2 linked regions of the Homo sapiens genome follow. The protein of the gene in region 2 purifies or fractionates together with the protein of the main gene of each other region. This does not show direct contact. Each region holds a gene or a part of one and is shown on either strand. Other genes may lie near its edges.

Region 1 (15,276 bases), about 39 Mb from region 2:
AGCGTCAAAGAGGGTTTGGGGTGGAAATTAGACATAAGTGGCCTATATCATTGACCAGCCCAGAGCATTGCCTTGCAGATAGAGATGCTATTTTGGAAAATGTGAGGTTTTTTAGTTTTCTTGCTTTTATTCCAAACAAAGCTCCAAAGGAAGTCTGGGCGCGATCAATCTTGCTCACCAAAAGCCTTGACAGCTTCTAGCCCTTAAGAACACATTTCAGCTTCCAGCTCCTTCCAAGATAAAATGTGGCCGAGCAAAGAGGAGAGCAGGAAATGCAAGTAAATAAGGAAAACTAGTCTTTTAAAAAATATATTTTGGCAGTGAAAAGGGTTATAGGGCTCCTTTTAGGAAGGGTGCTTTGCGAACCCTGGGATGGCAGCTTTTGGCATCTGCTTTTACCAGAAAATATTACAGGCTTAAGGGAACGTGGGCGGGGGGTGCAGAGAGGGAGCAGCGCTGCCCCCATATCTCTGAGGCTTTGTCAGGGGCTGCGTGGGTGAGAGCTTTCTGCTGCCTCAGCCGCCTTAATTCAAATACCATCTGGAAGAAAACCCTTTTCTTTGACCACTCAACACTGAAATCTTCCCCAAATCTATTACTTTAACTTATGAGATATTTTAATAAGGATTTCTTTTTAATATCTAGGAAACTGGGGGGTGAAGTCAATACTTTTTTCTTTGAAAGCCAAAATGAATGTCTTGACTGGTAAGATGCGGGAAATCACATTAGAATCTCATTTTAAAATCTTAGCCCTGGGGGAAGGAGGAAGCCTCCAAACCACCCCTCCCTCAGCTAAAGAGTAGATTTCAGAAACGTGTTCAAATAGTGATATCCCTGAAGGATCTTCATCCTTAGGTGAATCTCTCCCCTAGCTGTTCCTTATTTTTCCAGGTAATTTTACACGTGTCTCTAAGCTGATTACTTAAAAGAAGACTCCTGTATCTGCTTAGCGTGACGAAGAGGTGGAAGCTCTAGTCTTCACAAAGCCTGGTTTTGCAGCCTCTGCATTTCTGAGGTGCGCCATATTTTGGCGCAGAGGTTGAGGTGCGGAGAGGAAATCTATTTCTCCCATAGCCCAAACCCTTTAAAAAGGATATATATATCAGCAGCCTTAGGACAGATATGGGGAAAGCACCTCTGGGTGTGAGAGAAACACTGAGCTCTCCACAGCAGCCTGGCTTGGCATCCTCCGAGCCTTTTCCTTAAACCATGAGGAGTTTCTCTAAAAGCAGCTCGTTGGGACCCAGCAGGTACCCAGAAATGGCTCCAGTGCCTGCTTCTAAGGATAATCTGAGGGAGCTTCACAGGGGGAAGATAAAGGCCATGATGATGGATATTTTGGATTGCAAACAAAATGGCGACATTTTCCACTTCTGTCTCTGAAAGATACAATCCAGGGAGAATAGGGATTTATTTCTCACATCCGATGCTCCTGATCCCCAGACGAAAGCAGTTCCTCGCTTCTAGCTCTGAAGGGGGTGATGATGGGGATGCAGGTCTGAGGTCTGCATTTTCTGAATTTGATTCCTTTCTCGAGGAATCCTTAAATCTGAAGATGAAAATATTTCCCTTTACTGTGCCTTCTTTTGCCTCTTCTAGCCAGTCAGTAAGCAGCCCTATCTTAAATCCAGGAGTGGAAATGTAATATTTAGCTCCTACAACATCAAATGAAAAATTTATAAAATTGCAGTTTTATTACAAAGATACCGATCTCCTTGCTCTCTCCCCCTCCCCCTGGGGCCATAAAAAGAAAGCTGGGTGGGGGAAGGAGAGGAAATAAATTCAGAGAATGCCAAATACTACATTCAGCAGGAAGCTAATGCTGGGATTCCGGCAGTCCAGGGAAGGGCTGGCTCAGGGTGACTCTCCCCAGTTCAGTCCTCCGTTTGCTGGAGACCTGGGTGAGCCTCAGTCCCTTTCAAACTGTTTCGCTCCGCGTGCAGATTTTTGGAGCAATTCTTTCCTCCTGACGCGATAACAGACCGCGAAGCATCCCCGGAGGAGACCAGGAGTCCGATTGCTCCCGGAAAGTGCTCGGCATCCTCTGCGCGGCTGGCTAATACCGAGGTTTAGGCGTTAGTTGGTCCGCTTTGACCCGAGGAAGAGCATGGAGCAGAAGACCGCCCTGCGTTATCCCCCGGCTGGGCCGCGGGGCACCTGTGCGCTCCCGCTGCGCCTTGGGCCGGGATGTCTTTGTTTCTTCCGTGCACAGCACTCGGCAGCCCCTGCGCCCTCAGCCTGCCTCCGCAGCAGCTGGGAACCGGGCAGCCCAGCTGGCCCGCCGCACGGCGTTACCAGAGCTGCCGCAGCCGCCTGGAGCCCCAGCCGCCATCCTGAGAATTCGCCGAGCTTCCAGGCGAATAGCCTGGCCAGGCCCCATGCTGGAGCCAGAGGGCTGCTGCGTCCGGCCTGCTCTGCCGGCTCGCCTCGGCCTGAATTCCACGCAGACCCACGTCTTCGGCCAAAGAACCCCTTCTTAACACGGATATTATTCAGAATAAAAACTTTATTTCTTTTTGTTTCTCAGAATGTGAGCAGCAAGGAATGAAGAACTCTCAAAACAAATCTAGTATTTTTCGCGTTTACAGATTTTTTTTTTCAGTTTTGCCGGATGTTACAAACCTAAATCACTGTTTTCAAAAGCTGGATCTTCTCTGGTTTTATTGTATCGTTACCGTTTAAAGGAATTATATTTCTCTTTCAAATAAAAAAAATTCTAAGTACGCCAATACACAATTGAACAAAAGGCCCAAGAACCCTTCTGAACCATCAGGGTACAGAATTCTTTAATATAAATACGAACGGATGGGGATAAATAATATTTAAAACTTAGATTATTCAATGCTTGCAAAAAAATATAAATAAATCTGACTGTTCACCAGCATACACACACGGAAAGACGTACACTTAGTCATCCTTGCACAGAGAGCCCCTGTTTCAAAGCGCCTTTGATTTTTTTTCTCACTCTTTACAAGAAGTGCAATTAAAAAAAAAATTTAAAATTAAAAAAAGTAATCGCTTCCCCTCGGGAGCCATAATGTAAGAACAAATTCACATTGAAAACTCGACTAGAAAATTTGTTCATATACCCTGTTTCTGATCAAAGAGTGGAGAAGGTAAAGGGTGCAGGGCCAGTGGCCTATCGAGGAGCAGGAAGAGATAAATATCGCTATGATACAGCCATTCCAGCAACCAAGATTGCTACGTCACATAAACTATAAAAACGCCTTACCAACGAGGGGGGAAACCGGGAAACGGAGTGCGGGGCGGAGAAGAGAGAAAAGGAAGGAAGGAAAGGGCAGGAAGAACCTAAAAAAAAAAAAAAAAAAAAGCAACCAAAGAAAAAAGGTGGGTGGGGGGAGACTCTCCTGGCGCGTAGCCCCAAGCCCACTATCACAGGTGGGTGAGCTTGGGTGCTTCCTGAATTCTTCCCTGAGAAGGATGGTGGCCGGTAAGGTCCGTGTAGGTGGGGTGCGGCTCCCCAGGCCCCGGCCCGTGGTGGTGGCCGCTGCCCAGCGGCCCGGCACCCCCATAGTCCATGGCGCCCGAGGCAGCGTGGGGGAGGTGAGTTAGACCAAAGAGGGCTGGCCCGGAGTTGCTCATGGGCTCCACATAGCTGCCCCCCACGAAGACGGGGCTTCCCTGTATGTGTGGGGTCCCATAGCTGCCGTTGCCCTGCAGGCCATGAGCGTGCGGGTCATAGTCGGGGGTGCCCCCTGCGCCCGCCCCTGCCGCCGTGTAGCGCTTCTGTGGGGGTGGCGGGGGTGCGCAGCTGGGCAGGGACGCAGGGTAGGAGGCGGGGGGCAGCCCGTAGGTACCCTGGGGGGGCTTGGAGAAGGGCGGGGGCGACTGGGGCTCATACGGGACGCTGTTGACCAGCGAATGCATAGAGTTCAGATAGCCACCGGCTCCGGGGGGCACGGGGCTGCGACTTGGAGACTGGCCCCCCGATGACGTTAGCATGCCCTTGCCCTTCTGATCCTTTTTGTACTTCATGCGGCGATTCTGGAACCAGATCTTGATCTGGCGCTCAGTGAGGTTCAGCAGATTGGCCATCTCCACCCGGCGCGGCCGGCACAGGTAGCGGTTGAAGTGGAACTCTTTCTCCAGCTCCACCAGCTGCGCGCTCGTGTAGGCCGTGCGCGCGCGCTTGGACGAAGCCTGCCCCGGCGGGCTCTTGTCGCCAGCGCAGCTTTCGCCTGCGAGGACAGAGAGAGGAAGAGCGGCGTCAGGGGCTGCCGCGGCCCCGCCCAGCCCCTGACCCAGCCCGGCCCCTCCTTCCACCAGGCCCCAAAGGTTCCTGCATCCGTCAGGTCCCAGAGAGAAGTAGGAACTAGGTGCTATCCTCTCTCCTGGTGGGTAAAACAGTGATACTCCCTCATTTAGCCAAGGAGCAAATCACAGCCTTCTCGGGGGAAAGGACAGAGAAGTAGAACCCCCGGTTTGCCTTCCTGGTCTGGATTTTCTGTTTAGAGCTATTAACTTTCTGACTCATTTACTGGTCCCTTTGGCCTATCGGACAACAGCCTCCCTGTGGGCCGGTCTCAGCATCTCCATTCTCTTCACAGTAACTGAAATGTGGGAAACCTAATGTACACACTCATTTCCCTCCCACACTGTCTGACAATAATTAGGCAGTAGCTTCAACTGGCCACTTTTTTCTCTCTACCCAGAGGAGATGGGCAGACTGGAAACCTCAAACTGGAAGGCCTTCTCTGCCCAAAGAAGAGATCCCATTGAAGGTATTTCTGGTGGGGAGGCCTAGGCCCTTCATGCTAGGTCCTATTCTTTAGGGTTCCCTATGTCATCAAGCAGCCAGCCCCAGCTTTTGTCCACTAATCTTGTACCCTTCTGTCTTCCCTGGCCCCCCAGATCCTAGCTCTGGAAGTCCCAGATGCTCAGGCTCAGAGCAGGGCACTGGCAACTGGAGAAGGCAGGGGCAAAGGTAACCAAAATGCTAGGAAGCCTAAAGCCTGGGGCCTTTCCTCTACTGGAGCCCGCTTTCAGGAGGCCCATGTGGTTCCCATTAGGATGATAAGTCTGCATCCCCCTCCCCCAGGAGATCTTTGGCTGCTTTCATTGTACTAAGTCTGAGTAGGGTCTTCCCAGAGGTAAGGCAGCCACTCCATCTGCTGGAGCAAAAATTGGCTCTGATTATAGGCAAAGCATTGATTCTGTCTTGGAGGGTGATTAGGCCTGTTTTTATTCTGCCACATTTCAGTAAGGGGAGGATGTCACTGTTTCATTAGAAGAGCTGTGCTAAAAAGATAGACAGTGGAGCTCAGGTTGTTTCTGCACAGAGGTCCTAACTCCAAGAGTGGAGCAAGAAGAGATTCCAACTGCACTAGACCCTACTTGCCCTTGGAGAAGTCCAGAGGGACTCCCAGCAGGTCTCTGGTGTTTTCCAGCCTACAGAGGCCTATCACCTCCCTAAGTTGCAAAGACTATGAAAACCTTTTTGGTGGGCAGTGGTGTGGGAGCAGTGAATTCCAGACATGCTCCATCGCTCCTAGGCTGTGCTGGATGTCGTGGGCAGTAGCTTGGGGACCAGGAGCCAGGCCAGAGGACCCTCTTCCAGAAGGCACTCCTTTACCTGAGCTGGAGCTGCTGGTTTTCTGCTTTGTGTTTTGTCGAGACTCTTTCATCCAGGGGAAGATTTGTTTGGCCACTGTGGGTGAGTTGAGCAGGGGGCTCTTGGCCGCGTTGGCAGGGGTAGGGTTGTTGCTGGCATTCTGAGGAGGGGAGGCAGAAGAGGGAGGCGGGGGCGCGGCAGGGGTAGGTGCAGGGGGCTGAGGTGCGGGCTGAGGCGGCTGTGGGGCAGGGGGCGCGGCCTGGGGCGGCGGCGGGTGCAGGGGCGGCTCTCCCAGGCTTGGAGGCTGGCTAGGTGGGGCGCTCAGGGTGCGCAGGCACGCCTCACTCAGTTCGTGTGCCTTGGGGTGGCCCCCGGCGCTGGAGGGAGACTGGAGGGAGCAGGCGGGTCGGTGGTACTCGCCGTCGGCGCCCAAAGCGGCGGACGCCGGGTACGGCTGCTGATTGGCATTATAAGCGAACCCGTTGGCTGCCTGGTAGGGGTAGCCACCGTAGATCGCCGAGCTGTCGTAGTAGGTCGCTTTTTGCATCGCGTTGTTTCACGATCTTGATCGCACACTCTGACAGGGGTTTGACACCCGTGAGGGCGCACATTGGCACGCCCCCGCGGTCACGTGACACTCCGCCGCCAATGGCCGCCCCGCGCAGACCTGGTGGGGCGAGAAGCGCAGCGCGGTGAGGGCTCCGCGCAAATCCATCTTACTCTCAATAGCTAAGTGACATGAAAGCCATAAAAGAAAAAGTGGTCAGCAATATTTAGCAGCACGACTTGGCCCCGGGCGCAGGGAGCCGTGCTATAAAAAACCGCTGGAATTTACTGGCAGCTACAAATATTTGCTTAACTTGCGTCTGGAGTTGGGGGATTTTCCGGGGAGAAGGAGAATGAGTGAGGGCTGCAAGCTGATTCTCAGGAGCCGGGATCCAAAAGGAGAAAGGCTTGATAGGCTAGAAAGGAAAAAGGCTGGGATCTTTCTTTTCCAGGGAAGAAGAAACTTGGGGTGTCGCTTAGTTTCTGCTCCTTGGCCTCCTCCAGAGGGCCCAAGACTCCTCCACTCTGGGAATGTTGGGAAGGGAACGAGGAGGCAAAGGGGAGCTTGGGTCGCCAATGTTTTCTCCGCTTTAGGACTGATGTTTGCCAAAAGAGCCCTGAGATGGGGTAACTTCCCACCCAGCTCCTTCTTGGACCTTCCTGCTCCCAAGAGAGGTTTGCACAAAAAATTTCAGGCAATTTGCCCCATCCAACCATGCTGGATTTCAGAAGCTGAGCTTGTTAGGAAGTTAATCCACCTTGTTGGGGATATGACTCACCTCCTCCAAATGAACCCCTTGTGGCCAAGCCAAGGGGGGAGGGAAAACTTTGTGTGGAACACATTGCGTGTGTGTGTGTGTGTGTGTGTGTGTGTTTAGGGTGAGGGACCAACAGTAACACCCCACCCAGCAAGTCACAACTAAAATCCTGGAGAGTTCTTTACTCCTTTCCTCTCCCTGTTTCTCAGGCACTTCCCAGCAAGCCACCCCCACTTCTTTACTTCTTTCCCCCAGTTACAGAAGGTTCCCAGAACCTCCTGTCTTGGACTTTCTAAGGTGCTGTTATTCGGGGCAACTATCAAATTCTACCTGTTAAAACATGATGGATTAGAGGGGGAAAAAAAACCCCTCCAGGAACCTGAAAAACCAGCGTTCATCTCCATGACCACAGTTTGAACTCTCCTTCCAACTTAACGATAATAGGTTCTGTCTTAGAAACTGCTATGTAATTTGATGTATGGGGGTCATTTGGCTCCCGACGAGGGATGGAAGCACAAGCCATAAAATCCTGCCAGAGTTTCCTGATCTTTGTGTGCTGTTGTTGTTGTTGATATTTTGTTACTTGGCCTATTTACCTGCTTCAGAAATACCAAGTAAAGGATAACCCTGAAAATCTAAAAAGCAGTTGAAAACCTCCTCAACCCTCTTTCATTTAGAAAGCAGTTTGCAAAAGTTAAATCTGTTTTCTTTTTGTTTTCAACCACTGCATGGTCAACCTCTAGTTCTCAGCACAGAAAAGTTCCATGTGAGTTTCAAATATTCACCCACACACACACTCAGAATCTTAGTCCCTCTGACCACTCAAGAAAATTATAACAAATTCAAAAGAAAATGGTTAACATGCAATCCAACTATGTATATTGAGTCCCAGAGTTATTCAAGTTTTCCAGGAATATTAGATGCTTTGTTAACTAGAAAAAAAAAGATAATGTATTGCATCTACCAGTAGATGATTATAATTCCATTGTTGATAATGGACTCCTTTAGATTTCATTATTAAGCCAACAATCTTACCAACATCTGCAAAACAGGCACAATTAATTTTCCAGAACCTCGATTAAAAATTACAGCATCGCTTATCCAGAGTTATTGTCAGTGATCATGAGCCCTGGAGCATTGTTTCTCTTTTGGAAATAGGAAGCTACACATACCATGGTTGAAAGTAAATAAAGGATAAAGTAAAACTTAAAACTGAATAGCAATTTAGTGTATCCGTTTCCTTTTCTTTTACTGAAAACAGTTCCTATTACATTTGGCAGTGTCAATGTCTGCCATTACAAATTTTTTAGATACCAGGCTTGTGTAAAATAAAATGTCAGGTTAAGAAAATTAGACACTCGAACAGCAAGATATTAGATAAAACAAAATTAAGCTGATTTTGCACATGCAATATTTCTAGTGACTTGCTAATCCATTATCACGTTATACCAGCCTGCTACTTAGTTAAGCCTTTTTATCAAGTTGTGCATTGTCTTACAAAATAACAAAAATATCTTTGAAAATCAAAGAGCATACAACAGCCCTCGTAAACTTAAAATATAAATTCGATTCTGGGATCCCACCAAAATCCTTCCTATTGTTCGAGGTCAGCAGACCACCACCTTGGAGCTCATACATCCCCCCACCCCAACCCAGCCCCCAAAGTTTGCAACCTAGTAAAGAAGTTGGAGATTTGCCAGCCAGGAAACTTTGCTCTGTACCGCCAAGCAAGGGCTGGGGATGAGGGGAGATTCCTCCACAAAGATCTGTTTCTGGACAATAATCCCCAGGTGCAAGAGCCGAAAGAGAGTTGAAGAGGCTAAATTGAGTGCAAGAAGCAAGCCCTATTGTCTCTCTGGAAGATGTGCCCAAATTCAACCTCCGTCCTTCAGACATCGCTCCCTCTTCCCATTCCCTCCTCTTTCTTAGCCTTCCCTCACCCCAAATCTGAGCGGGTTCGTCGGATAGGAGCCCCGAGTCCCCTGCCCACCTCTCCTTCCCTCTGCAACCCAGAAAAGTTAAGGCTGGGCTAGGGGAGAGGCAAGAGGTGGGGGCGGGGATGGGAAAGCGGCCTGAACTCGAAGTGTAAGGGTATCAGTCACTGCCGGGAAGGAAGCTCCGGCTTGTGAACTCTTCTTGAACCGAGATTTAAGTCTGCAGCCATAAATCACCGAGACGTAAACTCCGCCATTCAGCGCCGGGAGCGGCCGGTTGCGGCCCTGCTTACCTTAACTTCTGACGAGCGCAGGCTCGGGCTCAGGCTCCGACACGGGCTCTGGCCCCCGGCCTGGCTTGGCGGCCCGGCCGGGTCCCCTCGGCGCGGGATGGGCACGGACCCTCAGCATCAGCCGAGATGGCAGGCGGGCTGGAGACCCCGAGGCCCGGTCACCGCCGCGCAGAGCGTGGCCGCCTCGCTGCTCCAGCACGGCTCGCCCAGGGCCGACTGGGGCGGCTTGGACCCCCCTCCCACCCACCCCACCCACCCACCCCTCCCCCACACCCCCGCCCCCTGCCCTTCCCGAGGGCAGCAGCCGCGGCCCGGAGATAAGCGCTAGTGCGGCGCCGGGCTCTGCCTGGGCTAGTGGCACCGACTTGGGTATGTTTCTTATGAATATTACACGCGGAGCAGCGTCTGGTCCGGGGGTGCGGTGGGGGGTGTTGGGGCGGGCGGGAGGGGAGACCAAGGCGGCTGGGGAAGCGCGGGCTGGTGTGGGGGATGGGGCTGAGGCGAGGGGAGGGACCGGAGGGAGAAGGGGAGCTCGGCGGTGGCGGGAGGAGGGCAGCCTCCCCCCACCCCCCAACGCCCTCCCTCTCCTGCTCCCAGGCGTCACGAAAGTCCAGGAAAATTATGCTAATGAGGACAAACGGCTCTCACAAAGGGGCTCTCTTGCTGGGCTCTATTTCTTAGGAATTCGTTTGAGAAACTTCGTATTCCTCTGCCCTGGACACTTCCAATTGTGGGGTGAGGGGAAAGAGAACCAAGAAAAGTGAGTTTCCCAGACTTTGCCCAGTTTACTTCACCTGCAACTCCCAAACAGATCTTTGGGTGGGGGTGTGGGGAGCTGGGATAAGGCTTTTCTCTAGAGACCCTCAAGAGCCAACTGGGCTCTCTTTGGTTAAATTTTCAGGCAGAAACTGCTGACATCCTAGCAGCCAGGAGAAAAATGTCCTGGGAGAGACAGGTACTTGTTCCAGCAGTGAAATGGGATGCTCTGGGCTCAGGTACAAACAAGGGTGTTTAGAAACGCGGATCTCCAGGGCTCATGTGCCCATTTCAGAGTGCAGACACGCAGCTCACCCACAGGGAAGACAGAGAAAGCTCTGACCCCAAGAGAAACCGACATCATACACACACACACACACACACACACGCAGGGCAGAGGAATATGTGGTTTCTCAAACGGATTCCTAAAACATACATATATATATAATATATATTATATATATAATATATATTATATATATAATATATATTATATATATGTATATACATATTTTCCTCATTAGTGGGATGGAGTAACGCTGAGCTGGGCAAAAGAAAGGTCCGAATTTGCCTGGTAATATTGCCACAACTTGAAAGTGGATGATTTTCCTCCTAAAGCCTCCTTTGCTCCCAGCTTCAGAAGCAAACTCTGCAAGGGTACGAGTGTGGCAAAAAGAGAAATGGAGATTTCTCTCTTTTGCTGCAATCCCAAGGCGTCAACGGCGGGTCCTTCTCAAAGGAAGGTGTTAAAAATATAAGTAGTATGTTTAAACTGTCAAGGAGCCAAAGTGTCACCTTAGAGCAAAAACAAAGCCAGGGGAAAAGGGAGAAATCAAAAAGCACTCCGGGCCAGGGTGGCCTCATGCATACCAATGGTTTTTGTCATTTATGGCTGGGCAAGATTTATGACTCGGCGCCCCAAAGCTGTAAACAGAGCACAAAACAGCAAACACTTGCTCCTTATGGCATATTGCAGAGCAACTTGAAAGGGGGAGCTGGCCGCGTAGGAGGTGAGAGCCAGCCGCAAAAATCCGTTCGGCGGCATTTTCTCTTCAAACCCGCCCGGTCGGATGTGGCATTTGAAGAAAGAAGGCGTGGGTCAATAATCAACCCGCACTTTCTCCTCCAAACTGCTGACGCGACTCTCACCGCCTTCTCAGCTAAGCCAGCTGCCGGGAAGGCCAGCTCTCCGTAAGAACCTGCCAGGGGAAGGGATTCTCTGGGCCAAGGGGACCGAGGGCTCCCGAGCAAGGGCTGGGGCGCCCTGAAAGCATACCTTTCCACTGGCGCCAAGACCCTGCCGGGCAAAACGCGGGGACCAGACCTGAGGAGCCGTGGGAGCCCAGGGAGATCTGGGGCGGGAGCTTCGTTCCGGCCAGGGCCTCTATCCGCCCCGATACGTGGCTCCTGGGCCGCGGGCCTCAGCGGGCAGAAGTGGGGCTCCGACCTCAAGATGAAGGTCCAGCGTCCTGGCATGCAGATGGTCGGTGCCCCAGCCTCAAGCCGCTCTGCTTAAATCCAAAGGACTGGCTTTGGAGCAAGCGTAGGCGAGATTATTTTAAAATAATAATTTATGCTGGCGGAAGGTTTTTATTTGTTGGTTTGCTATTGGTGTTTTGTTTTTTAAGCGAAAATGCCGATTGTTGATTTCCACCTCCAGAAATTACCAGCCGCCGCCGCTGCGCCCTTTCTAGACAAATCCCACAGCAGTTCACCCGGCTCCCCCAAAACCGCAGAGCTTTTCTTTACTGAGAGGACCCCTTGGTTCCACCAATTCCCCCAAATCCCCGTGGCTCCCGATCTCTCATCCAGGGGGACTAGAAGAAAAGATTTTCTCAGCACTAGAAGAATACTTGGAGCAGCAAAGGTGCCCGTGGTGTCTTTCTACCATTCAAGGGGTGTCCTCCTGAAGGCGTCTGAGAGGGCCTCTGGCGGTTCCAAGGCTGTGCAGCCGGGGAGGAAGGTGAGGAATATCGTGGGTAAGAAGAGGCACCAAAATCACAGAATAGAGAGGAAAATTATTGAGGAAATGTACTTGCCTGTGAGGGTGAAGCTGGCATTTCGAGGTAGAAGGGGACTAGCCTTTTTTGATATCTAATAGTTTAGCATTATACGTAATGGACTCACTTTAGCACTTTCATGGGAGGAAAAACCAATCTGAGCTCTATAAATGTGGCTCTTGGCTTCTCACTGTGCATGCTTTTATGTAGAACCAGAGTCCATCCTTAGATATTTATTCAGCTTGCTGGCACTGAAGCAACAATAAAAAGATGCCTCTAACAAACCTCTATTCCCTCTCTCATTCTTTCTAGCAAAACTATATTATTTATGAGTCTTTAACTGGGTCAAAAATGCGCCAGAACTAGGTCATAAATCATATGAAATGCTGACAAGTAATTGAACAGCAATTAAAGCTTACATTTTATTTCCAAGGGGTGTTTTAGAGCACTTGAAAGGGCCTCAGTTAAACACTTGGTTACTGCCGAGGCCGGCACTGGGGAGGGCAGAAGGGCCCTTTCGTTCTGGGGTAGTAAATCCCACTCAAGTAGGGGATGCCTGATTTGATTTTTTTTTCACGTACAGAAAGAAATAATCTATATTTTAAGAAGTGAAAGGGGCACATCCGACCTCTGACTCCTTATAAGCATCCCTTTCCCTACTGCAAGGAGCATAATAGAGTTTCCTGCACCTTTCCAGGGAGTTCCCACCCTTCCCAGGAGTGTGGGGTCCCCAAAGCCCAATTAGCTGGGGCTTTCCCAATAATCTGGAAACATGCAGTTTAACTTTCATCTGCCTCCACCCTGGCTACAGCTCTGTTTTGGAGGCTCTGAAGCTGGAGAGATGTCTGCCTCTGCTTCCTGAGGACTCTTGTCTCTGGACTTCCCTCCAACCCAGGGCCCACTGGCCAGTTCTGGAACTCTCCAAGCCAGCTGGGGGTACACAAGGAATGCCCAGACCAGGCGCACTGATGAAGTCCAAACCTAATCCTGGCTCCCTCCTTCCTCTGTCTCCCGAATGTTAGAATAAGGAGCCCCTGGGCATCCAGCATGCTCACCCCACCCCAAGGCTCTCCTAGGTCTGAGCTGTCTTTCTTCAACCCTCTGGGGCAGAGGGTGCTCAGGGAAACAATGGCGGGCCCTCCGGTTCAGATCCTTGGGTCTGGCTTCTTGGGTCCGGCTTGTGGGGAAGCATGCTCTGCAATCTGGCACTAAACAAAGTGCCTGGAAGCATCATCAATAAAATGGCAGCGCATCTGCACATTTCCCTCATCGATTTCCCTCTTCCAGCTGCTCCGGCTGCTCAGGTCAGCCCCTAATCCTCCATCCCCTGCCTGAAAACACCGCCATCCTGGGAGAGATTCCCCTTCTCACCCACCCATCCCCCACCCCTCCCAGGCAATCTAGCCCTGCAAGCCGGTCCACCTCTGCCTGCACCTGGCTTCTGGACCCTCTTTCCGCCTGGGGATCAGCTCCTGAGACTCCAGCCCTGCCCTGCTGCAGTGGACAAAGCCACCCTTGCACTGGGGGCCACTGGGCCCACCTAGGAGCCCCCCTAGTGCCCCCTCCTTTACACCCCCAACACTTTCCAGGGAATTAAATTCAGAGTCTGAGGCGCTACTGGGAATCTTTCAAATGGTTTCGGTTCTAAAAGAGAAACAAAGGAAGAGAGAGGCTGAGGGTCCTGTCCATGAGCCAGGGTCTCCTCGCCTGACCTTTGTCTCTCACAGCCATAACTCACTCTAGATATGAACAATCGGCGGAAATACCTTAAAATAAATTCCATCCTCCTGGTATAGCCTCGACTTCCATCGGCTAGCTCGCCCAGAACCGCTCCATGAGTGCTGAAAACTGCAATCGGCTCAGAGAGCGCTCTCCGGAGAAGGGGAAGGAGAAGGAGGAGGTGGGTGCGTGGGGGTTGGGGGAAAGCTCTGGCTCTGTAGAGAATCTAGAAAACGTAATCACAGGCGAAGCCTGTCTGGGTCTCCGCTCCAAATGCCACAATAATGCGCTGTATTATGTGCTCACGTGGTCATACGTCAACTTAAATCCTTTTATTTGAAATAGGGAACCACTGAAGGAACTAGGTTTCCAAACAGAATATTTAGCTTTGGGGGAGGGTAGGTGGGGAACCTTGACCAGCAGTTTTGAGTTTAAGAGTTCTGTCTAAGCAATAGGATGCTTGGAGCCATCCTCCCATGAATGCCATATAAGACATACAAGCTTATCTCCACTTATATTTCTTTACACACCCTCCAAACACAAGGGTTACAGCAATGCTATTCACATTTTTAGAATCCATTTAACTTTCCTTACAGCCTCCCACCCACGGACAAGCTGGATCCTGCACACCCATGCACCCCAGTCTCCTCTGGCCCACAGGCCAGTATATCAAAAGGCAAGGGGCAGGCCCAGAAATAACTGGCCTGGACAGCGGACTTCCTCACAGCCTGCCATTGTATGGAGTTTGCTAACACCCACACCATACACTACAGACGCAAGAAACACCAAAAAGGCACATAATTACCTGACAAAAGGTTAAAGCATCTCCTCCAAGTCCAGTTGGTTTTGTTCAGTGGGAGCCCACTAGGAAAGATGTGCTTGGCTATAGAGTGGTGGGTCCGGGTTTTGCAAAATCTAGAGAAACCTAGTGCCCTGACTAAACTTGCACTTAAGCATTTCCTCAGTGCACAACTGAGTGATACATGGAATTATAAGTTTCTAAACATAAAAAATATCAGAGGAAATGATCTAATTGCTCTGCAAGAGACCCCCCCCCCCAAAAAAAATAAGAAAAAAAAGAAAAAGAATCAACCTTCACTGGAGTGCCTTAAGTTAACAAGGCAATCTGGGACCCTCTCCACAGGCAGGTCTGTCCACCCACTTTTCCAAGACAATTCTGTGTCCACCAGCAAATTCTCTCCCCACCCCCACACAAGTTCCTATAGAGATATCAACTCAAAGATGAGAAAGAGCCCCCTTCAGAACTCTCAAAATAATCTTGAGCAGAAAACCAGTAGAGAACCAACTGTGCTCAGGAAGAACCTAACTGAAACAAATAAGCTGCTCCCACCCTTGGTTCCACCCCTACTCCTGCCTTCTGCCTGATGACATTGCCCACTAATTTCAACATTGTACCGTTTCATGAGCTGTCTAAAAATCTTCTCTTTTCTGGTCTTAGTTTCTGAACTTCTGAGAGTGCTCTGAGGCTAGTGAGATCCTCAGGCCATATTCTTTTTTTCCTGGAGAATGGGTCTTCAGCTGGCTATGCCTGAGTGTGAGGACTCACTTATAGCAGCTGCAGGAGGCTGTGCATGATTCCTCCCCTTCACTCCTCCCCTGCAGAGGAACAGAAGGGGTCTGATGAAAATGTAAGGCCTTTCATAAGAGAACTTGTTCATGGGTTGTCCAAATCAGAAA
Region 2 (15,108 bases):
TGTCCTGAATTCTGTGTCTCAGGGTGAACTGTGCATTTTGCACTTCACTATTTTTTTTGAGATGGGGGTGTCACTCTGTCACCTAGGCTGGAGTGCAGTGTTGCAATCTCAGCTGACTGCAACCTCCACCTCCCGGGTTCAAACAATTCTCCCATCTCAACCTCCTGAGTAGCCGGGATTGCAGGCTCACACCACAATGTCCAGCTAATGTTGGCTAAGCTGGTTTGAACTTCTGAGCTCAAGTGATCCACCCATCTCGGCCTCCAAAAGTGCTGGGATTACAGGCATGAGCCAGTGCACCCAGGCTGTTCTAAACTTAACTTCCAAAATACCTTTCCTTGGCAATAAATTGCTCTATGGTGCATTGTCTTTGCTGTGGGATTCTTTTTTAAATTCTTTTTTATTCATTTATTTTATTTTATTTATTTATTTTTTTCTTAGATAGGGTCTCAGTATGTTGCCCAGGCTGGTCTCAAACTTTGCAGCTAAAGCGATCCATCCACCTTGGACTCCCAAAGTGCTGGGATGACAGGCATTAGCCACCACACCCAGCCTAAATTCTTTTAAACTTAGAACCGCGGCCCCACAACGGCTGTCAATAATCTCACCACTGCACTCCAGCCTGGGCCACAGTGCAAGCCTCATCTCAGAAAAAGAAAAAGATATATATATATTTTTTTATTTTTATTTTTTGACATGGAGTCTCGCTCTGTCCCCTAGGCTGGAGTGCAGTGATGCAATCTCAGCTCACTGCAAGCTCTGCCTCCCAGGTTCACGCCATTCTCCTGCCTCAGCCTCCCGAGTCGCTGGGACTACAGGCCCCTGCCACCATGCCCGGCTAATTTTTTGCATTTTTAGTAGAGACGGAGTTTCACCATGTTAGTCAGGATGGTCGCGATCTCCTGACCTCGTGATCCCCCCACCTTGGCCTCCCAAAGTGCTGGGATTACAGGCATGAGCCACCGCGCCCGCCCTGAAAAAGATATATTTTTAAAAAGAAAAAAAACTTAAAACAAAAATTTTTCTTAAATACAGACCGAGCGCTGTGGCTCATTCCTGTAATCCCAGCATTTTGGGAGACTGAGGCGGGTGGATCCCGAAGTCAGGAGTTGAACCAGCCTGGCCAACATGGTGAAACCCCATCTCTACTAAAAATACAAAAATTAGCTGGACGTGGTGGCACACGCCTGTAATCCCAGCTGCTCAGGAGGCTGAGGCAAGAGAATTGTTTGAACCCGGGAGGCGGAGGTTGCAGTGAGCCAAGAACACGCCACAGCACTCCAGCCTGGACAACAGAGCAAGACTCCATCTCAAAAACAAAAAACAAAAACAAAAAAAACAGGGTATCCCAGCTGGGCACAGTGGCTCACGCCTGTAACCCTTGCATTTTGGCAGGCCGAGGAGGGTGGATCACCTGAGGTTAGGAGTTCAAGACCAGTCAGGCCAATAGAGTGAAACCCTGTCTCTACTAAAAAAAAATAGAAAAATTAGCCGGGCGTGGTGGCGGGTGCCTATAATCCCAGTTACTCGGGAGGCTGAGGCAGGAGAATCGCTTGAACCCGGGAGGCAGAGGTTGCAGTGAGCCAAGATCACGCCATCGCACTCCAGCCTGGCGACAGAGCGAGACTCCAGCTCAAAAAAAAAAAAGAAGAAAAAAAGAAAGACAGGGTCTGCGTCTGTTGCCCAGACCAGAGTGCAGTGGTGTGGTCATAGCTCACTGCACCCTTGACATCCCAGGCTCAAGTGATTCTCCTGCCTCAGCAGCTGGGACTACCGGCACACATCACCATCCCTGGCTAATTTTTTAATTTTTTGTGGTGATGGCCTCACTATGTTGCCCAGGCTGCTCTTGAACTACTGGCCTCAAGTGATCCTTATACCAGGGCCTCCTTGCAAAGTGCTGGATGACAGGCATAAGCCACCATGCCCGGCGCCCCCCCCACCGAAGCTGCCTGTTCCTTGAGCACGATGTGTAGCAAGGGGAGATGGAGTGAGAGTAGCACCATAGAGAAGGGACAGGATTGCCACCCCGAGCTGTGTGACGTTAGGCCAGACCCCTCTTCTCCTAGCGAGGTCAACCACACGGGTGATTTTGGGAGCCCGTATCCGCTCACACAGGCTGAATTTTAGCTTCATAGGTGGAAGGGAATCTGTGAGGGTGTAGAGATGCTGGGAGCACCTTTTTCCTGGGAGAGCTTTCCAAACAGGGAACAAACAGAGCCACCCTGGGCCCCGCTGAGAGGATCCTACCAGAAGCCCTCACCACTGTCTTGCTCCACGCTGGTGGTGACGGTGATGTCATCGATGTAGGTGGTGGGTGTCGTGTACAGAAGTACAGACCGCTGCAGTCCAGCGTAGTTGAAAAAGTCAAAATATGTGTTCTGGACAAAGTAACCCTTGGGATACCTAGGATGGGAGGACTGTGGTTTGCTGGGCCCTTGCTCTGGGTCCCCTGACCTCAGCTCACAGGCCTCCCTGGCCTCCCCAGATCCAAGGCCTCCACTCTGTGAAGGCCACCCAGTCCCTACCAGGAAGACCACAGGGTGGGGCGGGAAGGTGGGTGTGTGCAATGGAGGCAGGATGGTACCCACTTGGAGGTGTCAGTCAGGTATTGGATGGTCCCTGGTGGCAGGGTGGTGGGGGTGAGTGTGTTGTTGATGGCGATAGTGATTCGGAGCCGGGAGGGCAGGGGCCCCACCTGGACCAGGTTGCTGATGTCGGCCTCGAAGGGGAGGTAGCCCCCCTCATGCTCTAGCGTGTCGACCCCATTCACCCACTGCAGACACAGGAGATACGGGGAGGGGGCTGCAGGTCAGGGCATGAGGAGGCGCCCTACTATCGGGCACTCCCTCACATAACCTGCAGCATGGGGCTCCGGGGCCTTCCAGCCAGACGGGAAGAATGACATCCCAATGGGGTAGATCAGGCTACCTATCCCCCTATACAGGGCACAGCCCCCAGGGCAGGGCAGGGCAGGACCCCCCACCATCCCACCCCAGCATACATGCCGTGGGTGGCAGCTGGAGGTCCCATGCTGTTCAGCAGCCGTGCCCCCCCACCCGCCCTGCCTGCTCCTGGCCGCACTGACCACGATGGCATAGGAATGGGCACTGCCAATCCTCAGCACCACTCTTGTGCGCAGGTCCTGGGTCCATCGCTCCGGCAGGATCACCTCCCGTTCGTACCACACCCAGCCGACAAAATGCCGCAGACGCCAGTCCTGGCTGATGTCATTGAAGCTGGAGGGAACTGGCATGTCCACGGTGGGGCCTGACTGTGGAGAGAAGAGCCGGGCTCAGCTCCTAGGCCCCCAAAAGGGTCCAGGACCAGTGTGCTGCACGGCTGTGCCCCCAGGCCTAGCACAAGCCCTGACACATAGCGGGGATTCTTGGCAGAAAGGACAGATAACTTGCTGATGACAGGTCAACTGCCAGGGCGATCTGTGCACCTGGGCCAGTGGGGCCAGGAGTTCCTCCTCAGAGTGGATGGGGCACAATATCTCCTGAGACAGGAGCAAGCCCAGGGCCACATCCCAGCCAGAGGCAAGAAGGTTCAGACCTGTGACTAAGAGGCAGATGGCCACTGCCTGTCACAGGGAGGAAGGCTGGTTGGAGGAATGGGGGGAGCTTTGCTTAGGACACTGTGAGTGGGGTGCACACTGGCACCCAGCCCCCTCCTCTTTCCCTCCTGTACTGAATGCTGCAAAGTCAGAATAAGAGGATGTAGACCAGGCAAAAGCCGCCCAGACCTCACCCAGTTCCACTTCTCTGCAGATCACATCCAAGTCAGGAGGGGAACAGGGGTGGCGTCCTGGGCCTGATGTCATGTCCTGTCCTCTATGTGAACCTTGAAAACCAAGGGACTTCCTGCCTCGGCAGAGCTGACCTCAGGACATCTAAACTGTCACCTTCTCCCGATCCCCGGGCCCAGCTCTGTGCAGTGCATGCCGCTGTGGCCAGAGTGTGTGGGTGGCTCATGCCAGTAATCAGCGCTTTGGGAGGTCAACGTGGGAGGATGGCTTGAGGCCAGGAGTTCGAGACCACCCTGGGTAAATAGTGACACCCTGTATCTTTTTTTTTTTTTTAAGTTTTTTTGCCTTTTTTTTTTTTTTGGAGACGTAGTCTCACTATGTCGCCCAAGTTGGAGTGCAGTGGCATCCTGATCTCAGCTCACTGCAACCTCTACTCCCGGGTTCAAGCAATTCTCCTGACTCAGCCTCCCAAGTAGCTGGGATTACAGGCATGAACCACCACACTTGGCTAATTTTTATATTTTTAGTAGAGATGAGGTTTCACCCTGTTATGTTGGCCAGCCTGGTCTCAAACTCCTGGCCTCAGGCGATTCGCCCGCCTCCACCTCCCAAAGTGCTGGGATTACAGGTGTGAGCCACCGAGCCCAGATAATTTTTTTTTTTTCAATTAGCCAGGCGTGTTGGCACCCCCTAAATTGCAAGGCTGGGGCGGGAGAATCGCTTGAGCTCAGAAGTTAGGCTGGCGCCACTCCGCCCCAGCCTGGGAAACAGGTGCAAACCCAGTCTCAAAAAAATTTTTAAAAATTAAAAATAAATATTGAAAGGAAGGATACTGCACAGACTCAGCCTTTACCTCGGGAAAGGGCTCGGCAAGAGCCTTTTCTCCTCCTGCCTAATCCGCCCCGGCCCTCCAGGGTGCTCCTGTTCCCCCGTCCCCCAAGCCGGCGCCCCCAAGCCCGTTGACCTTTAACCTCCTGCGGGCCCCAGCTCGGAGACGCCCAGGGGAAGAAGTCTGCGGGGGGCCCGGGCTCCCCTACTCCCACCGCCGGGCTTTCGGGCGCCTCCCGGCCCTGCCCCGAGATCGCACCTCCCACAGCGGCCGCCGGTACCACTGCTCCTCGAAGCCCCGGCGTCGGTTGTCAGAGAAGTCGGCGCGGAAGCTCCAGAGGCCGTCCAGCTCCTTGCACTCCCGCGACGGGCTCTCCTGGGGGTACAGCATCCCGCCCTGCAGCCCCAGCGCGCAGCCCCACAACAACGGCCCGAGCGCCGCCCAGGCAACCGCCGACCCCCGGGCCATGCTTCCCGGTCCCCCGCTCGGCCACCGTCTGCGGCGCTAAGAAAAGCGCGGGAGGTGCCCGTAGGGCGGGTCGCGTGACGCGCCGGTGTCGTGATGCGCCTGAAGCCATCCGCGCCATCTTGGTTGAGGACGAGTGCCAGGCCTGGAGGGGCGGGGCCGGGCGCTGCCCGGTAGGGCTTGTGGCTGGAACCCCAGGCTAGGCCTTTGGGGAAACGGGACCCTCACCCTCAGCCCCAGCCGATAAGGGCGAGGTCTGCTCCCCACCCCGACCCAGGCTGGACGATCCAGGGCCGCAGGCCAGAACAGAACCCCTGAGATCGGTGGGATCCCCCTGTTTCTTCAAGGAGCACCTCCACTTGCTTTTCCCAGCAGGAATTCAAGGAGGCCCCAGCGGCGCCTCTTCCATGCCTGTCTGATGCAGCCTCTTGCAGGGATGCACGTCCTTGGGATGCGGCCATAGCCTTGACCCTGGGCTTCTGGAGCCCTGACCTTAACCCAGGGGCCAAGAGCTCCCTCTTGGTGTTGCAGGCACATAAAGATGCAGGGAGAGAGGCCAGGTGCACTTTGGGAACCCGAGGGGGGCAGATCACTTGAGGCCAGGAGTTCGAGACCAGCCTGGCCAACGATAGTGAAACCCCGTCCCTATTTTGTAAACATACAAAAAAAAAAAAAAGAATTAGCGGGGCGTGATGGTGCGTGCCTGTAATCCCAGCTACTCAGGAAGCTGAGGTAGGAGAATCGCTTGAACCCGGGAGGCAAAGGCTGCAGTAAGCCGAGATCGCACCACTGCACTCCAGCCTGGGCAACAGAGCGAGACTCTGTCTCAAAAAAAAAAAAAAAATTGCAGGGAAAGGGTGCCCTGCGGGACCCCAGTTTACTCCAGTAGGGAAGGCACCGTGTGGGAGAGGTAGAGGAGGAGATCTGGAGACAGCAAAGGAGACATAGATTTATGGAGGGGACTTTCATACAGGGACGGTGCAGTGGCCATTGCTGGACATGAGAACCACTACCATTTGTAAAAAGCATGCAGCTTACATAACATTTTCAACTAGCATCCTCGACCTGTTACTGGTGGAGTTCCGGGTGGTGAATCCCTACACATCAGCAACAACCTCAATTCTTGCCTCCTCAGAAGAAAGAATTGCACTGAGGGGCATAAGGCAGAAAGCCAGAGGGAGGTAAGCTGCAGAGCAGTAGTAAAAGCTTGTTAAAAAGCAGGCCAGTGCTGAGCGTAGTGGCTCACACCTGTAATCCCAGCACTTTGGGAGGCGGAGGTGGGGGGATCACGAGGTCAGGGGTTTGAGACCAGCCTGGCCAATATGATGAAACCCCATCTCTACTAAAAAATTAGCTGGGCATGGTGGCATGCGCCCGTAGTCCCAGCTACTCGGGAGGCTGAGGCAGGAGAATCGATTGAACGCGGGAGGCAGAGGTTGCAGTCAGCCGAGATCGCACCACAGCACTACAGCCTGGCGAGAGAGCAAGACTCAGTCTAAAAAAAAAAGCAGGCCAGGCACAGAGGTTCAGGCCTGTAACTCCAAACTCCAGCACTTTGGGAGGCCAAGGCGGGAGGATCACTTGATATCAGGAGTTTGAGACCAACCTGGCCAACGTGGAGAAACCCCATCTCTACTAAAAATACAAAAATTAGCCAGGCGTGGTGGCAGGCACCTGTAATCCCTACTATTTGGGAGGCTGAGGCAGGAGAAATGCTTTAACCCAGGAGGCAGAGGTTGCAGTGAGCTGAGATCACGCCACCGCACTCCAGCCTGGGCTACAGAGTGAGATGCCATTTCAGGAAAAAAAAAAATATTAAAAAACTTTAGAACAGGAAGGAAAGAAGGAAAGTACAACTTGGAAGAGGGCCAAGTGGGTGATCTAAGAAACCAAGTGCCTTGGCCAGGTGCGGTGGCTCACGCCTGTCATCCCAGCACTTTGGGAGGCTGAAGCAGGCAGATCACCTGAGGTTGGGAGTTCGAGACCAGCCTGACCAATATGGAGAAACCGCATCTCCATATTTAGCTGGGCATGGTGGCACATGTCTGTAATCCCAGCTACTCGGGAAGGCTGAGGTGAGAGAATCGCCTGAACCAGAGATTGCAGTGAGCCGAGATCACGCCATTGTACTCCAGCCTGGGCAACAAGAGTGAAACTCCTACAAAAAAAAAGAAAAAGGAAAACAAGTGCCCAGCTTGACCTCTTGACTCAGGGTTTCATAGATTGGCATCCTTCCAGGATCTTGCCACTCCTGATTCCTTAGCTGGGGCTCTGAACATACATTCTTAGACCATAAAGTCATTCGCAGGGTGCACAACAGTTACGGATGTCAGGTGCCTCTGCCATACAGAGGGAGCCCTCATGTCCTAGGAAGCTGGCCTGGACACAATTGTTTGTATGATTACTCCCCCACCCCCTTTTTTCATGCTCACCAAATCCACCTTCTGAAAATGGACCTCAATACTGGAAATGGAGTCCCCAGCATAGTGAAAATAAGTACATTCTGGGAACTGACAAGGCCTAAAGGCTCTCTCCCAAATGTTTACATTGTTTTTTTATTTTCATATTTTCTTTTTTTAAATTTTACTTTTATATTTCATTAGTGAAATCTTGACATGCTTAAATTAGAATACAGTTCACTGTTTATGAGGCAGCTTTAGGCCAAATTTAACAAAAGTAAGAAAAAGTAGGATGCAGACGTTTATACAGTATGTAAAAATCAGTAATTCAGGCCAGGGGCAGTGGCTCACGCCTATAATCCCAGCACTTTGGGAGGCTGAGGCGGGCAGATCACCTGAGGTCAGGAGTTCAAGACCAGTCTGGCCAACAAGGTAAAACACCATCTCTACTAAAAATACAAAATTTAGCCAGGCATGGTGGCAGGTGCCTGTAATCCCAGCTACTAGAGAAGTTGAAGCAGGAGAATCACTTGAACCCGGGAGGTGGAGGTCACAGTGAGCCAAGATCACACCACTGCACTCCAGCCTGGGGGAACAGAGCAAGACTCTGTCTCAAAAAATTAAAAAAAGAAAAGAAAAGAAAAAAGAGTGAGAATCACTAATTGCCACGAGAATGGCACCATGCCATTCATGAGGGACCTGCCCCTATGACCTAAACACCTCCCACAAGGCCCCACTTCCAACATTGAGAATCAAATTTCTTTTTCTTTTTCTTTTTCTTTTTTTTTTTTTGAGACAGAGTTTCGCTCTTGTTGCCCCAACTGGAGTGCAATGGTGCCATCTTGGCTCATCACAACCTTCGCGTCCCAGTTTCAAGCAATTCTCCTGCCTCAGCCTCCCGAGTAGCTGGGATTACAGGCATGCATGCCCGGCTAATTTTGTATTTTTAGTAGAAATGGGGTTTGTTCATGTTGAGGCTGGTCTCAAACTCCTGACCTCAGGTGATTCGCCTGCCTTGGCCTCCCAAAGTGCTGGGATTACAGGCGTGAGCCACTGGGCCCAGTGGGGAATCAAATTTCAACACAACACTTGGTGGGGCCAAACAAACCATAACCAAACCACAGGATAGGTACTATTATTACTACCATTTCTCAAATGTGGAAACTGAGACACATGAAGGTTCAGTAACTTTTCTAACACCACAGAGCTAGTAAGATGCAGAACTGGGAATCTGACCTAATCAATCTGTTTCCAAGTGTTTATGCTGTCACTCTGAATCACTCTGCCATACCACCTGGCAAAGGCTTTTTTTTCTTGAGAAAGTGTCTTGCACCCAGGCTGCATCACAGTTTACTGTAGCCTCGACCACCTGGGCTCAGGTGATCCTCCTGCCTTAGCCTCCCAAGTAGCTGGGACTACAGACACATGCCATCACACCCAGCTAATTTTTAAAAAAATTTTTATTTATGTATTTTTTTTTTGAGACGGAGTCTCACTCTGTCGCCCAGGCTGGAGTACATTGGAACAATCTCAGCTCACTGCAACCTCCGCCTCCCAGGTTCAAGCGATTCTCCTTCCTCAGCTTCCTGAATAGCTGGAATTACAGGTGCATCACCATGCCTGGCTAATTTTTGTATTTTTAGTAGAGACGGGGTTTCACTATGTTGGCCAGGCTGGTCTTGAACTCCTGACCTCAGGTGATCTGCCTGCCTCGGCCTCCCAAAGTGCTGGGATTACAGGTGTAAGCCTTCATGCCTGACCCTATGTCCAGCTAATTTTTACAACATTTTGTTGGCCAGGTGTGGTGGCTCACACCTGTAATCCTACCACTTTGGGAGGCCAAGGCAGGTGGATCACCTAAGGTCAGGAGTTCAAGACCAGCCTGGCCAACATGGCAAAAGCCCATCTCCACTAAAAATACAAAAATTAGCCGAGTGTGGTGGTGCACACCTGTAATCCCAGCTAATGGGGAGGCTGAGGAAGGAGAATTGCTTGAACCTGGGAGCTGGAGGTTGCAGTGAGCTGAGATCACAGCACTGCACTCCGGCCTGCGAGAAGGGAGCAAGACTCCATCTCAAAAAAAAAACAAAACATTTTTTAGTCTGGGCATGGTGGCTCATGCCTGTAATCCCAGCATTTTGGGAGGCTGAGGCAGGTGGATCACCTGAGGTTGGGAGTTTGAGACCAGCCTGACCAACATGGAGAAACCCTCATTTCTACTGAAAATGCAAAATTAGCCAGACATGGTGGTGCATGCCTGTAAACCCAGCTACTCGGGAGGCTGAGGCCGGAGAACCACTTGAACCAAGGAGGCGGAAGTTGGAGTGAGCCAAGATCTCACCATTGCACTCCAGCCTGGGCAACAAGAATGAAAGTCTGTCTCAAAAAAAAAAAAAGTTTGTATTCAGGGTTTCACTATGTTGCCTAGGCTGGCCTTGAACTGCTGGCCTCAAGCAATCCTCCCAGCTCAGGCTCCCAAAGTGTTGAGATTACAGGCATGTTACCCAGGATAATCTCGATCTCCTGACCTCATGATCCGCCTGCCTTGGCCTCCCAAAGTGCTGAGATTACAGGAGTGAGCCACCATGCCTGGCCTGATCTGTTTCTTTTTCAGAGACACAGATACTATCCAACATTTTTCTTTTTTCTTTCTTTCTTTCTTTCTTTCTTTCTTTTTTTTTTTTTTTTTTTTTTTTTTTTTGAGACAGAGTCTCACGCTGTTGCCCAGGCTGGAGTGCAGTGGTACAATCTCAGCTCACTGCAACCTCCACCTCCCAGGTTCAAGCAATTCTCCTGCCGCAGCCTAATAAGAAGCTGGGATTACAGGTGCTCACCACCACAACTGGATAATTTTTGTATTTTCAGTAGAGACGGGGTTTCACCATGTTGGCCAGGCTGGTCTCAAACTCCTGACCTCAGGTGATCCTCCAGCCTTGGCCTCCCAAAGTGCTGAGGTTACAGGCATGAGCTGCCATACCTGGCCAGCCATTCAACATTTTTCTGATATCTTTGTTTTAGCTGTTGTGTTTTGCTGAATTAAAGCATCTGAATTTGGTAAGCATTTGTAAATCAAAGAAAATTACTGAAGCGTGTCTCAGTCATTTTTAGAGGTCATTTTGTGAAAGTTGAGGATGCAGTGGGAGGAAAAAAGAAATAAAAACCACAGGAAATATTTGTGATGCATGCTTTTTTTTTCCAAAGACGGTCTGGGGACTTCAATATTTAAAGGGAAAAAGAGGCCGGGCTGGGTGGCTCATGCCTGTAATTCCAGCACTTTGGGAGGCCTAGGCAGGCGGATCACCTGAGGTCAGGAGTTTGATATCAGCCTTGCCAACATGGTGAAACCCCGTCTCTACCAAAAATACAAAAATTAGCTGGGTGTGGTGGCACATGCCTGTAATCCCAGCTACTCGGGAGGCTGAGGCAGGAGAATTGCTTTAACCCAGGAGGCAGAGGTTGCAGTGAGCCGAGATCACACCACTGCACTGCAGCTTGGGCAACAGAGCAAGACTCGGTCTTAAATAAATAAATAAATAAAGGGAAAGAAAGTGAGTAGTAGGGGAAGGCAAAATAAAAAAACAAGTGGGGAGGGAGAACAAATTGAAGCGCCAAGTGATCGTGTTCCTTTGAGTCTTTGATCAGCGTTTACAGAATCTACATTTTACATGTGGAAAGAAAAGGGTGGAGAAATAGTCAATTATGCATTTATCTTGAGCTCAGTGAATATGCATTTTTTTCATGAGATAAATAAACATAGAGTACAGGAAGCAGTCAGATATGCTTTTGTCTCCAGTGCACAGAGGGATGACTTTTAGTTCTGTCCTTTGTCCTTTACCTGTGAAGACAAGTTTTTCATTTATGCTGTCAGGGTGAAATTCAACAGCACTGTTTTGCCCAGGCATGGTGGCTCGTGCCTATAATACCAGCACTTTAGGAGGCCAAGGTAGGTGGATTGCATGAGGCCAGGAGTTGGAGACCAGCCTGGCCAACATGGTGAAACCCCATCTCTACTACAAATAAAAAAATTAGCCAGGTGTGGTGGTGCATGCCTGTAATCCTAGCTACTCAGAAGGCTGAGGCAGGAGAATCACTTGAACCAGGAGGTAGAGGTTGCAATGAACTGAGATGGCGCCATTGCACTCCAGCCTGGGCAACAGAGCAAGACTCTGTCTCAAAACAAAACAAAACAAAACAAAACAAAACAAAACAAAACCAGAACTGTTTTAGATGAAATTCAAGAAATTAAACAGAACTGTTTTCCTTTCACATATTCAATGTCAGTAACTCATCTTTCTGGGTTTGAGATACTGAAAGAGCAATGTCTGGCCTCATCCAAACCCTGGTAGATTTATCACCCAAGAAATTTTGAATATCAAGACCCTACCCTCTTCCCTGAATAATGACTGTGAAAGGAAAATAAATCTCAGGACCACCAACTCACTAAGCCAAAAGCAAAAGTCAAGCTGGAAACTGGATCATGCAAACCTGCCTCTCCCATTTTATTCCTAAATAGATAGCTACAAAGATTTTTTTTTTTTTGAGATGGAGTCTCACTCTGTCACTCAGGTTAGAGTGCAGTGGCGCAATCTCTGCTCACTGCAAGCTCCGCCTCCTGGGTTCATACTTTGGGAGGCCAAGGCAGGCGGATCATGAGGTCAGGAGATCAAGACCATCCTGGCTAACACGGTGAAACCCCATCTCTACTAAAAATTTAAAAAGTTAGCCAGGCATGGTGGCACACGCCTGTAATCCCAGCTACTTGGGAGGCTGAGGCAGGAGAATTGCTTGAACCTGGGAGGCAGAGGTTGCAGTGAGCTGAGATCGTACCACTGCACTCCAGCCTGGGTGACAGAACGGGATTCTGTCTCAAAAAAAAAATAGAGACAGGGTCTAGCTCTGTCACCAAGGCTGGCATGCAGTGGTGCAATCGTAGTTTGCTGCAGCCTTGATCTCCTGGACTCAAGTGATCCTCTCATCTCCACCTCCTGAGTAGCTGGACCATAGGCATGCATTACCATGCCTGGCTAATTTTTTTATTTGTAGAGATGAATTCTCACTATGTTGCCCAGGCTGGTCTCAAACTCCTGGCCTCAAGCAATCTTCCTGCCTTGGCCTCCCACAGTGCTGGGATTTCAGACAGGAGCCACCACGATGGCCACATAGGCAAGATTCATTAAATCATTGGTCACTGGTGATCAACTCAACCTTCAGCTCCTCCCTATCTCTGGAAATATGGGGGCAGGGGGCTGAAAGTTCCAATCCCCTAATCATGAGGTTGGTTCCCCTGGCAACCAGGCCTCATTTTGAGGCTATTCACGAGGCCCCAGAGATCAGTCGTCTCATTAGCATCCACAAAGACACTTACCACTTTGCAGATTTCAAGGGTTTCAGGAGCTGTGCACCCAGGAAACAGGGACAGAGACCATATATGTGTGTTTGTGCATATATGTATATATGTTTGTGTGTGTGTATTCTTTTTGTGTGTTCTTCCTTCTTTTACACTGTAGTTTTCAGATCTTACAAATATATATTATTATTTCATGTTTATATTATAAAAGGAAAATAAAATCTCGGGACCTCAGACTCACTATTCTACAGGGAAAAGTCAAGCTGGGAACTGGGTCATGCAAACCTATCTCCCATTTTTTTTTTCTAAAGAGATAACTACAGACCGGGTGCGGTGGCTCACACCTGTAATCCCAGCACTTTGGGAGGCCGAGGCGGGCGAATCATGAGGTCAGGAGATCGAGACCATCCTGGCTAACATGGTGAAACCCCGTCTCTACTAAAAAAAAAAAAAAAAAAATTAGCCAGGCATGGTGGCAGGTGCCTACAGTCCCAGCTACTCGGGAGGCTGAGGCAGGAGAATGGTGAAACTGGGAGGCAGAGCTTGCAGTGAGCTGAGATCGCACCACTGCACTCCCGCCTGGGCGATAGAGCGAGACTCCGTCTCAAAAAAAAAAAAAAAAAAAGAGATAACTACAAAGATAAAAGACTACATACCTCCCTCCGAATTTGCTCCAAGAAAATTCCTTGTGGGCCTCAAGATATTGACCCTAAAAGACTTCTGTTGAGACTGGGTGTGGTGGCTCACGCCTATAATCCCAGCACTTTGGGAGGCTGAGGGAGGTGGATCACCTGAGGTCAGGAGTTCGAGACCAGCCTGACCAACATGGTGAAACCCCATCTCTACTAAAAATACAAACATTAGCCAGGTATGGTGGTGGGTGCCTGTAATCCCAGGTACGTGGGAGGCTGAGGCGGGAGAATTGCTTGAACCTGGGAGAAAGAGGTCACAATGAACCGAGATCATGCCACCGCACTCCAGCCTGGGCGACAGAGCAAGATTCTGTCTCAAAAAAAAAAAAAAAAAAAAAAGAGTTCCGTTGAATTTCACCCTGATAATGTCAATGGATAACTTATGTTCACAAGTGATGGACAAAGGACAGAACTAATTGTCACCCTTCCACCCACCTGAGACAAATCTACATCTGGCTGCCTCCTCTACTCTATGTTTATTTATCTTATATAAAATGCAGATTCACTAAGTGCAAAATTAATGCCCAGGTGACTGTTCTTCTACCCTCTCCTTCCACATGTAAAATGTGGACTCAGTAAACACTGATCAAAAGATCCGAATGCAATTGCTTTCGAATGCAACTCTATTAGATATATACCTTCTCTTTTTTCTTTCTTTGCTCTTTCTCCTACTGCCCGCTCTTTTCCCTTTATTTATAGAAGTCCCCAAACCCTCTTTGGAAAAAGCACAGATAGCAGATGTTTCCTGTACTTTTGTGTGTGTTTTTTTTCTTTCCTGGATACGCCCTTAACATTGGCAAAATCAACTAAAATGATTCAAGACTCACCTCAGTCCTTTTCTTTGGCTTGCGATATAAATGGAATCATAGAGGCCAGGCACGGTGGCTCACGCCTATAATCCCAGCACTTTGGGAGGCCGAGGCGGGTGGATCACCTGAGATCAGGAGTTCAAGACCAGCCTAAACAACATGGCAAAACCTTTTCTCTACTAAAAATACAAAAAATTAGCTGGGCATGGTGGTCCCGCCTGTAATACCAGCTACTTGGGAGGCTGAGGCAGAAAGAATTGCTTGAACCCGGGAGGCGGAGGTTGTAATGTGCCAAGATCATGCCAGCGCACTCCAGCCTAGGCAACAGAGTGTGACTCCACCTCAAAACTAAATAAATAAATAAACAAATGAAATCATATAATGTGTGATTATTTGCCTCTTAATGTTTTAAAATCAAACATTTACACTGTAATTCTGCTTTGTACCAAAATTCATCAGAAACAATTTTCTTAGCACTGTGATTTTATTTTCAAAATTAGCTGAACATTATAGCAAAGCTAAGTTACAATTTTCTCCTGCCTTCCCTGAAGAAAAGCCCTGAGGGATTTTGTTTTATTTTGTTTTTAGGTTTTTTATTTATTTATTTATTTATTTATTTATTTATTTTGAGACACAGTTTCGCTCTTGTTGCCCAGGCTGGAGTGCTGTGGTGCGATCTCAGCTCACTGCAACCTCCACCTCCCGGGTTCAAGCAATTCTCGTGACTCAGCCTCCTGAGTAGTTGGGATTACAGGCATGCGCCACCACACCTGGCTAACTTTTGTATTTTTAGTAGAGATGGGGTTTCACCATCTT

What was found.
Region 1: the proteins of GUSB (region 2) and HOXA3 purify together in Homo sapiens (affinity purification with mass spectrometry; 2 studies listed by BioGRID and IntAct, with this or other methods). This does not show direct contact.

Annotation. Positions count from the first base shown.
Region 1 is NC_000007.14:27,104,522-27,119,797, forward strand, and holds the end of HOXA3 (homeobox protein Hox-A3), read right to left. Parts: intron 15,075-15,276; exon of another isoform or gene 14,995-15,074; intron 13,837-14,994; exon of another isoform or gene 13,626-13,836; intron 9,322-13,625; exon of another isoform or gene 9,104-9,321; intron 6,240-9,103; 5' UTR 6,120-6,239; coding exon 5,594-6,119; intron 4,200-5,593; coding exon 3,394-4,199; 3' UTR 2,489-3,393; downstream 1-2,488. UniProt on the Homo sapiens protein: Sequence-specific transcription factor which is part of a developmental regulatory system that provides cells with specific positional identities on the anterior-posterior axis.
Region 2 is NC_000007.14:65,977,136-65,992,243, forward strand, and holds the start of GUSB (beta-glucuronidase isoform 1 precursor), read right to left. Parts: upstream 5,079-15,108; 5' UTR 5,049-5,078; coding exon 4,839-5,048; intron 3,275-4,838; coding exon 3,089-3,274; intron 2,777-3,088; coding exon 2,592-2,776; intron 2,407-2,591; coding exon 2,264-2,406; coding exon of another isoform or gene 2,251-2,263; intron 1-2,250. UniProt on the Homo sapiens protein: Plays an important role in the degradation of dermatan and keratan sulfates.